Regions from separate parts of the Homo sapiens genome. Here region 2 is linked to region 1. A link means that fine-mapping ties the variant in region 1 to the expression of a gene that starts in the linked region. Tissue or cell type: whole blood. Region 1 holds a variant in brackets; the other region holds the start of a gene. All regions are shown on one strand. Distances are between the middles of the regions.

Region 1 (5,375 bases):
AAGCCAAGAAAAATTTCCCACTAGTCAAGGCCTACCTAGGACATACCTGGTCCTCCATATCTGAAGGAGTGCTTTTTGCAACACAGTTCCTTGGTCTGGATGTGAGATGAACAGGTAACAGAGAGATAAGCACGCATCTATTGTGGTGAGCTGGCGGGGAAGGAGGCCATGTTTGTGTCCCACGCACTTCATTAGGCACTCACTTTACATTTATCTTTTCAGAAGCTGGCCTTCCTTGCTTTGCTTTGGAGGATCATTAAAAGAACCATTCTGGCTACTGTTATATACCTTAGAGCAATCCATCCAGAGTTGCTCGTGGGATACACAATTCTATCAGAAACCAACATGTGATATCCAGGTGTCTGCCCTAAGTAGCTTTTGATTTGGTGATGATAGTAGAAACACCTGCCTGTTTTTCTTGAATCTTAGTGTGCATGGCGTATGGTCTGGATCAGTCATCACACAGGTACATTGTACCTCTGGAGGTTGACTCTTTAAACCTTTAAGATGCCTCTAAGTATCCTCCAAAGCAAATTTCATGTACACAAGGTAGTGTATGTTTAGAATCAAAGTATCCTAAATGTACCACAAGCTTGAAAAACATTTATCTAGTTTTTTTGTATGATAGAAAGTGTTTTATTGAAATAGATTCAATTCTTACATATAAATTAGAGTTTTTTTTTTAAAGGGTAGGCTAACTTTTGTAACTAACAATCCCCAAATATCAGTGACTTGGCACAGTAAGAGTTATTATTGTTTATACAATGCCAGTGTAGGTGTTGGGACATTCTCTTAAACAGCCCTACTCCACATGGTGACTCAGGGATTTAAGCCCTTCCATCTTGGAACATGAACATCTTCAATACATGACTTACAGGGCGGAAAGGGAAGAGAGTATGGGGAAGGTAGGTCAGATCCTTGACTGTCTTTGCATGGAGTTGACACCCATCATTTCTGCTTACATTCTGATGGGCAGGACTTATCACATGGCCCTACTTAGATGCAAAAAGGGCTGGGAAATGTAGTCCACAGGCCCTTTCTTCATTCCTACCTTTTCTTCTACTCCCCAAGCCTGTGAAATATCCTCAGATCTTTGCCTTTGTCCCCTAGGTATGAGTCTCTCCACCTGTAACAGAGGATTGTCCCTGTCCTCTGGAACTTAGCTCTGGTGTGAAGACAAGATAGCTTGGGGAAAGAAATGCTAGGCTTTGAGTCAGAACACAGCACACAGGGAAGGAATTAATTGAGAATTCTTCCCAAACTGTAAGACCACTGCTCAGCCATGTTATCAGAAGAACCTACGGGAAAACTGTGTCAATGTCCTTATGAACTGTGGGATGGTTTGCTAATTCCCTGTAGGGAAATAAGAGCAGACTCGAATTTCTTGACTTTTGACTGGTTGTTTATTTGTGTATTTACTTTTACATGTATGTACTGTCATGGGATCCTTAGGGTGTTGCTTTGCCAGCTGGAAACCTCTGTGGCTAGCAGTGCCTCTGTTTCAGTTTTGCTCATGCCTGCTGGGCTCCTTCTGCTCACTTGGCCCATCAGGTTGCGCGTGGCTCCTGCTTTCAGCCCAGATCCCATACCTGCCAGGGTGTGTGAGTGAGCAAGTGCAGGGTCCAGCCACTGCACACAGCCAGGTGTGCCGGCTGTGGTGGGGCAGGCAGCTCCAGGCGCCCGCACAGGTGCCGGCTCTGTGCAAGGCTGCAGCTGGACCAGACGTACTGCAAGCAGCTTCTGCTGTGGGCACCAGCATGTGGACAAGGGGAAAGCAATAACACCAGAAAGGTCAGATACCAGGAACCACAAAGCCCCAAAGAGGGAGTTACAGCATGTCATAGCCATGACTTGGGGATCCCTGAGGTCTGGGCTCCCAGAAGGGCTGCAGCTCTTCTCTCCTTCTCGTCACTCACAATGTGGTGAGTGGGGGGCATGTTTCAGGCCTGTTTGTGTTACAGCTCTTTCAGTCCCACCATTCAGCTGGTCCTGAGTTCTTGTCCCATGTCCAGGAAGAATGAGGCACGTGGATAACTGGAGAGTGAGCAAGATAGTAAGGAGCTTCATTGAATGACAGAATAGCTCTGAGGAGACCCGAAGTGAGTAGCTCGTTTCCACAGGCAGGCCATGCTGATGAGTGTCCAGGTCTCAGTGGAGAGGAGACCCATAGTGGGCAGCTCCTTTCCACAGGCAGGTCATCCTGACCAGTATGCAAGTGTGGCTGAATCCAGGGATTTTATGGGCTCAGAAGGGAGGAACTGTGTGATGATTGGTCCATGGGTGGCCATGGGTGTGCCTGGAAAAAGCACCATAAAGTTTCGCTCTGGGTCATGGACACCACCTGGGACTGAAAGCCTGGCCCCCAGGCTTCAGGCTGTCCCTGGTTTGAAAGTGGGGCTTCACTGGGGACCCACCCCTTCCCTCCTAGGAACCTGTCTGACTCCTGCCACCATCAACATGACCTCCATGGCACCCAGGCTGTTCACACCAAGGGGCACCTGCAGGCTTGCGTTAAGCCTCCCTCAGCCCTCCTGGCCTCCCTTCCTGAGCTCGTTGGTGCTCAAAGTTTCAGAAGGTGCCAAGGCAGTGGAGGATGTCTGGCATGTCAGTGCTGCCCTGAGCGTGTACACACCTAGCCGGGCCATGACAGCACCCAGGCTCAGGCTCTGAAATTGGAGCGGGTGCCAGGAGTTGGGAGAGGCCAGGGAGTAGGAGCAGGCACTTCCAAGCCTGTGGGAGCTTGGGGCTAGCCATGCCCCTGAGAGTACAGGGATGCCCGGGTCTGGAGCTGTGTTGATGTGGCTGCTGCTGCACTGGGGAGTGAGGTGCTCTTGACCAGCCAACTCGGTAGGGGGCGGGACTCCCACCTATTACTGCCCTCCTCTGGCTCGGTGGAACGCATAGCCCCAGCTTCACCTTCCCCACTGCAGCTGGCATCCCCACAGCAGCTGCTCCAAATAGGCCACCGCCACCATCAGTACCCTGGGCTTTGGAAAGATA[G/A]TGGCTGCTACTTGTACAAACTTCTCAAAATAGACTCTTCACTCTAGTTATTGCTTATGAATTTGTGAGTAGACATTTGTGTGTGTGGCAAATTTGAGGAAAGACATTGGGTCATATGAATTCATCATAGTGGGACATAAGTCAGAACTGAGTTTCACAATTTCCCAGGGTTATGCAACAAGAGTCAGACTAGCTCAGAGTCTTTGAAATATTGTAGACAACTCAAATATTGTGTGCATTTTTCTCAGAAAAAGTTACAGTATTTAAATTTTTATTGTATTATAACTTCGTCTAAAGTCTGCTCTTAGACTGAAGAGCAGATAGCAGATTCAGTTCCCCTTTACATTTATCCATAAGGATGGTTTGTCTGTGCTGAACGGGGGAATGGGACATCAACCACTGCTTATAACCCTGCTTATAACTTTTTAATGTTATTGCTGGGAAATTTCATTCCTGCTTGCTCATGACTTAAAAAAAAATTCTATTTATACATTTAGAATTACCATGACAAAAATAGGCCCCCTCCCCTAAAAAAAACCCATAAGTATTCATAATAATATTTAAAGGAGATAAATTACCCAAGACTGACTCTGAAGAATAACCCAGGGAGGTGATGATTAAAATACTTCGGCCTTGTGAAAGGAGCATATCTTTGGACCAGATTAATATCCTTTTGGCATTTATGCAGAACAGGGAGTTGATCTCTGTAGATTCTAATTTACAACAATGTCAACATTTAAAATAGACTACTAATAAAGACACCAAGAACAAACATGCCTCTAACCTGAGGTACATCAAATAACCCTTCTTTGGTGTTTTGACATTAAATGCGAATAAATAGAAAAAGGGAACCAATATTATGAACACATTTAAACTATGTTTAATAATAATTGTATGAGCAGCTCACATCATTAGCTTTTTTTTTTACTTTGTGCTGTTAGTGAGGTATAACTGACACATGTATTTAAAATATACAGTTTGATGAGTTTACACACACACATGCATCCATGAAACTTTTGCAGGACTTTTCCTTAGTTCAGTTAAAGACGGGGTTCTTTGTCCTATGGCCTTGAAAATTCAGGCTTGCAGACCATTGAGTAAGATGGGGTTTTATTGGGTAAAAAGAGAGAAAGGGGGGAAACAGACTCTCGCTAGACCAGAGTCCCTGCTAGAGCACTTCCCACCCACCGTTCGAATCCCAGGTTCCATACAGGAAGAGGAGGGACAGGGCTCCTCCCCGCTGCAAAGGGCATGAACTTCCCGAGGCTCCACCTCAGTGGGTAGGCTGGTTGGAGTTTCTCCAGGGACCCCCACCCACCTGGCTGTCTCAAAACCATCACCACAGTCAAGATAATAAACATATCCAACAGTCCCAAAAGTTTCCTCATGGCCCTTTGTAATCCCTCCCTATATACCCCTTCTCATCCACCTAGGCAATTGTTGATCATCTTTCTGTCACTATGGACTAGCTGGCATTGTTTGGGATTTAAAAATTTATTTTTGTAGAGAAAGGGTTTTACTTTGTCATCCAAGCTGGAGTGCAGTGGTGCCATCACAACTCACTGCAGTGTTGACTTCCTGGGCTCAAGTGACCCTCTCACCTCAGCTTCTTGAGTAGCTGGGACCACAGGCATGCACCATCATGCCTGGCTAATTTTTAAAGAGACAGGGTCTCGCTATGTTGTTGAGGCTAGTCTCAAACTCCTGGCCTCTAGTGATCCTCCCATCTTGGCCTCCCAAAGTGTTGGGAATATAGGCATGAGCCACTGTGCCCATCCTTGAATTTCATACAGATTTATTTTTTTGGTTTAGTTTCTTTTTCTCAGCATGGTTATACTGAGGGTCATTCATGTTACTGTATGCATCATTAGTTCAGACGTTTTCATTGCTGAGCAGGATTCACACATGATTAGCTTTTTTTTTTTTTTTGAGACAGAGCCTCACTCTCTCACCCAGGCTGAAGTGTAGTCACCCGATCTCAGCTCACCACAACCTCTGCTTGCCAGGCTCAAGCAATTCTCCTGCCTCAGCCTCCCGAATAGCTGGGATTACAGGTGTGTGCCACTACCGCCCAGCTAATTTTTGCCTTTTTAGTAGAGATAGGGTTTCACCATGTTGGCCAGGCTGGTCTCGAACTCCTGACCTGAAATGATGCATCTGCCTCGGCCTCCCAAAGTGTTGGGATTACAGGCGTGAGCCTCCATGCACCACCCCCCCCGCCACATGATTAACTTTTGATAGCTTGAAACTTTTAGAATTTGCCCAACTCCAGGCAATCAAAAATAATGAACCAGTCTACCTCTAGTGCTGACCATCAACCTGGACATAGTGCACCGTTAACATGTTAACATGAGACTTAAATGCAAATTGTTTTC
Region 2 (5,375 bases), 34 kb after region 1:
GTCTGTTACATTTCCCAGTTGCTTACTGCTGATGTAGACAAAACTATTGATTTTTAGAAACTGATCTTGTACTTGGCAACCTTGCTGAGCTAACATTACTTCTAATACTTTGTTGATTCTGTTGGGCTTTTTATGCTGATGATCACACCTGTAAACATCACAGACAGGAAGATATTAGGGGCTCTGCCCAGTGCTCTGATCTTTTGCATTTAAGCACTTCTGCTAGTTGAACTCCAATCTGGTGCCCCAATTCTGACAGTTGGGTGTCTCTCATGGTCCTAAGGGCCTAGGCCCCCTATACACTCACAAATTAGAAACTGATGATATTCCATCCCATATCCAGTCCATGTAAAAGCAGTGACCTTGTCTTCTTTTGCTATTTCCTCTAACCCTTTTATCATGGTCGGGGTCCTGAGAGCTGCTGACAGATCTTCCTGCTGCCGAGTGTCTGAATTCCTGAATGCTGCTCTATGCAGCCATTCTGGGTCTTTAATGCCCCCAAAGACAGCCTGTGTAGGTTAGCAAAGTAGTGAATCAACATAGGCCTTCAGATCAGACAGACTTAGGTTTGAATCTTATTTCTGCCCCTGGCTACATGGAGCAAGTCACGCAGCCTCCCAGAGTCTGCTTCTTCATTTGTAAAGTGAAGACAAGATTTCCATAGGTCAAGTGCCTTACAGTGGTCAGTGAGTAATGCCCTTTCTCCACACTGTGATGTTGACCAGTAAGTTGATCACCTCCTGACGCTGTGGATTATTGCTATACTTTTCAGGAACTTTGTGTCTCCAGATAGAATTGAATCTCAGCAGCTACAGTTGGTCCACATCCCCATGTGCCTTCCCACCCCAATGAATAGTTCAAGTTCCAAGTTCTGGCCACATATCATTGTCCAGTCTCACTCTGGTTAACTGGGCAATACCTGGTTCTAAAGCTTGTATGTCACGAGGTATTCTAGGAAGCATGACTCCAACGAGCACTTGCATTCTTGATGATGGTATAAAGAAGTAACGTCAGATTTTTGAACAAAGGCAACTAAGTGAGTGGGAGACTCTGGTGGCTTGGTATCCTGGGAATTTGCCTATGTATCATACAGTGTTTGGGTGTAGCAGATAAAGCCAGTGGCCTGGCTGGTTCTAACAGAGATCTTTATTATAACTAAGAACAACTGAGCTAGCCATGCCTTGTCACCTACTAATAGTGGTATTTCAGATGGATAATTTAAATCAGCAATAAAAGTGAACTGTATACGTTTGGAAACTTCACCAATAGCTACTCTGTTACACACAGATCTTTATGACTTTCTGTGGTTCAATGACAATTGGCCTCATTTATAGGTGCTTGAAGCCAACCAAGGGCAGATTGCCTTCCTTCTTTTAACCAGCTAAAGAGATGGGTGGGTCAGACAAGAAGAGGGTATGATGAAAGCAGGGAAAGGGAGGTGGACTCTTCAGAGGGAGGAGGAAGTATCCGTGTCACATTATCTCTGAGAGCACTCGCAGATGCTGAGCCTGCAGAGACAGAGAAACTGGCAGCTGACCAGGGTCAGGGATGGTCATGTATTCAAATATTGTGGGTTTTAGTCAAGTGTGCTCCACCCGATTCAACAATGTGATGTGACTGCTCCTAGCAACTATTTTGATATGGTGAATGTTGTTAAGCATAGGACCTAAGAAGAGGTGGCAGTCTCTTTCCTCTCCGCACTTGGCAGGCCACCCACTCATTCCTGATAATCACATTTAAGAGAGCTCTGGACAAGCTGGAATGCATCCAAGAGAATCCCTCAACATGCTGGTGAGTGGGATTGTGACCAGGTCATATCAGGAGTAGCCTAAGGGACAGGTAATGTGTGTCTTGGATGAATTGGAGTCAGACTTAAGAGTCCCCAGGGCAGAAACAAAATCCAGTGAGGGAGAGATGCAGGGAGCTGGATTTTAGCTCCTAAGGTAGAAAATTTCCAAAAGGCTGATCAAAGATTAAATGGCTGCCTTAAAAGGTAATGAGTTCCTTGTTAGTGGAGGTGTTCAACCACTGCTTGGTGGGAAGACACTGTAAGGAGGATTCAGGCAAGTGGGAAGGGGGCTTTTTCCAGTCCCTGAAATCAATGATTCTAACAGGAAAAGATGCTCCGGGGTGCGGTGAGCGCTTACCTCTGCTCTTGCAGAGACACTGACAGACGTTCATTCAACATCTGTTCCTGCCAGGCACTGTGCGCGCTGAACACAGAAGTACAGCCTCTATGAAGCAGCCGCTGTAGGCCTCAGAGACAGCTGATAGATGTAACACTGTTGTCTCCATGTTTCAAACTTCGGTCATGGTCTTACTAGGTCTCCTCATTAAGGGGACTCACTATGTGTCCAGTAACGCTTTCTTGTTACCAGATGACAGAGAGTCAGGCTGTCAGAGTTCACGACTTTAGGTGCACAGTTTCACCCTGTCTGGTCCTTGGGAGACGGAGAAGGGGTCAGGAGAAAACGTGGGTGAAGAGGCAGCAAAGCCGCAGGAGATATGAACTAATTGCTCAACGTGGGTGTAGCACGGATTAGGCCTTTTACAGCAAGCGCTGCCAGCAGGGAACTGGTGGATGTACTCTTGACCACGCTCGGCTGGACTCTGGGGAGCCCAAGACGGGTAAGACTAGGTCCCCGGCCCCAGCAGCTGGTGGGGGCGCCGCAGGTTAGAGACGTGAGGCCGCGAGGCTGAGGGCTGTGAAGGCGGTGGGCACGCACGGCGTGCCGGGGCCGCCTGGCTTCGCGGCGGGGGAGGTAACACTGCGACACCCCGCAGACGCTGTCAGCCGGGGTCGCGGCCCCGCGTGCGCCCGATCATCTGACTGCTGGGGAGTGCGGGGGCGCGGGAGCCAGGCGAGCCAGCGCAGGCGCGCGCTGCCTCCTCCGTCCCCACCGAGTCCCCAGCGCGTGCGCGGGGCCGTGGCCGAGGCCTGCGCGCCGCCCGGCCGCCTGCACTGCGCGCGCGCCCACCCCGCGTGGGAGGCAGCGGGAGGGGCCCGGAGAGGTGTGGAGCGGCGCGGCGGGAGGCTCCGTGGGCGGCCACGGGAGACAGCGCCGGCGGGAGCGCGCCTCTCGGCCTTTCCTCCGCGCCCCCGCGTCCCCAGCCGGCCGCTCCGAGAGGACCCGGAGGAGGCAGGTGGGCCGGGGGCGCGCGGGGCCCCCCCGGGCCGCGGGCTGGCCGGCGGCGGGGTTGGGGCCGGGGTGGGCGGCCCTGGGGGCCCGCGGGGAGGTCAGTGGCCCCGGGAGGGTCGCGCAGAGGCGCTGGGGGCTGTGGAAGCCCCGCGGCCGCCTCCCGTGGGCACCGGTGTCGCTGGCCGCGGGGAGGCCTTCTCGGGGCGGAGCGGCCCACCCGGCGGGGATGGGGACTCCTCGTGGCGGCCGCTGACGGACGGCCCAACTTTAGGTTGAGGGGCGCGGGGTGTGCGGGACCCGGCGGCGGAGCTGGGCTCTGGGCCACGACCGCCAGCCGCGGCTGCCCCGAGAGTCCCCGCACGCGCAGTGGCTTTCCAACGCGGCCTCTTCCCATTTCTCACTTGACTCCCCTTGCGCATTAAATTGTCGAGAAACCTTTGGCCAGTGGGTCTTCAAAGCTAAACCAAATGGCTGTCCTTGCAGTCCTTGGCTACCTGAGATCCCTTAATTCTGAACCATCCGCACCTGGGAGGGGAAGTTGAAAGGAGCGCTGGAGCTGAGCCCGCATCCTTAAGGATCCCATTCACTGCTTATGATGGTAGAGCTTTGAATTAGATGTCAGGCTGTTCACGTCATCCAGACTCTGGTTTTCAGCTCTGTGCTGAGACAGTGTTTTGATACGTATCAGAGGATGATGTTCCTATGGGACAATAACTTGCTGTATGTTCTGAGATACTAGACTGCGTTCATATTGTAGCACCATCATCGTATAAAACGGGCGCCTTTGAAAGGTTTCAGTAAACACCTTCCTCAGGAACATCCGCCAGCACTTAAATTGTACTTCACTTTCACTTTGACGTTTGTTGTTTGTGAATCTTGTGCACAATTTAAAGTGAGTCGTCTAAACAGCACAGGATCACGTGGTGCGGGGCATTGAGCAACTGGGGAGGAAAGCAGAGACTTGAACCTGCTGGAGTCTAGTTGGTCTGCGTTTTTATGTTGGAGAACCATCCTGGTTCCAGCTTATTTTGCTTTCGTAAATATGATGCATTTTTTAAATGCTTTCATTTGATACGGTCTATCTGGACTGTAAGATTGAGTCTAGCCATGCATGGAATGTGTTTACTTCTGTTTTGTAGAAGATTTAGCCCATGGTATTCTATTTGTAGGATTCATTTCAGACATTTTGTGTTTACCACATACAGTCCCACCAGCAAGGGCTTTTAAAAAAGTGACCTATGTTGTCTCTCATAGCTTATGACAACTCCAATTTTGACACGTGTTTGAAACTAGTGATCTTTAGATTATATAAAATCAACTTCACTCTTTCTCCCTGTTCAAACCTCAAACTCTGGTTACTTTTAGGCTTACTGCTCCCTTGTTAATTATTTATAATGAACTATGGAGCTATAGGCTTGCTTTAGTGTGTTAACCTTTATTTGTGTCTTGTTTCAGGCATTTGTATATTGTTTTCTCATCTGGAGAGTGAGCTGCACTGTTTTCCTTCAGTGCTGTTTAGAAGAGCTTTCGGAGACCAGAAACATGTTCTTTTTGCATTACCCAATATGGTAGCACTAGCCACATATAGCTTTTGACCACTTGAATGGGGCTAGAGCAGTGGAAGCACTGAAATTTTAATATTTTTTTTCTTTTCCTTTTCTCTCTCTCTTTTTTTTGTTTTTGTTTTTTTTTTTTGAGACGGAGTCTCGCTCTGCTCTGTCACCCAGGCTGCAGTGCAGTGGCCTGATCTCTCCTCACTGCAATCTCTGCCTCCCAGGTTCAAGCGATTGTTCTGCCTGAGCCTCTCGAGCAGCTGGGATTACAGGCGCCTGCTACCACACCCTGTTAATTTTTGCTGTGGGGTTTCACCATATTGGCCAGGGTGGTCTCGAACTCCTGACCTGAAGTGATCTGCCCATCTCGGCCTCCCGAAGTGTTGGGATTACAGGCATGAGCCACTGCACCTGGCCAATTTTTAAATTAATTTAAATAGTCACATGTGGCTAGTAGTTAGCTGGTCAGATGCCACAGCTTTAACTTATTAGTCTCCAGGAAGCCTTCGTTGACCCTCTTGAATCTGTGCTTTCATAGGACTCAGCTGTCCTTGGTCATAGCACTTACTACTTTCAACTTTCTGGTAGGAATCAACACTAGGCTGTAATTTATATGAGGGCAAGGACAGATCTGGTTTCTTTACCTTTGCATAGCTTAGAACTTAGTAAGAAAAACTGAATA

What was found. PIP is the estimated chance that this variant, and not a neighbour inherited with it, causes the effect.
Region 2: it holds the start of CLIP4, and the variant in region 1 is fine-mapped to the expression of CLIP4 in whole blood (TOPMed, PIP 0.98).

The regions. Positions count from the first base shown.
Region 1 is chr2:29,078,404-29,083,778 of GRCh38, forward strand. No RefSeq gene overlaps it. Among named protein-coding and RNA genes, the nearest start is that of PCARE, 6.6 kb to the left of the region's middle. RefSeq lists enhancers at 2,311-2,811, 4,582-4,821. The variant G/A (reference allele first, on the strand shown) is at 3,001.
Region 2 is chr2:29,112,522-29,117,896 of GRCh38, forward strand. CLIP4 (CAP-Gly domain containing linker protein family member 4) reads left to right here and starts at 2,894. Exons shown (of 16, transcript NM_024692.6): 1 at 2,894-3,144. LOC105374386 (a long non-coding RNA gene) reads right to left here and starts at 2,223. Exons shown (of 3, transcript XR_007086265.1): 1 at 2,148-2,223. RefSeq lists silencers at 2,755-3,114, 3,305-3,544.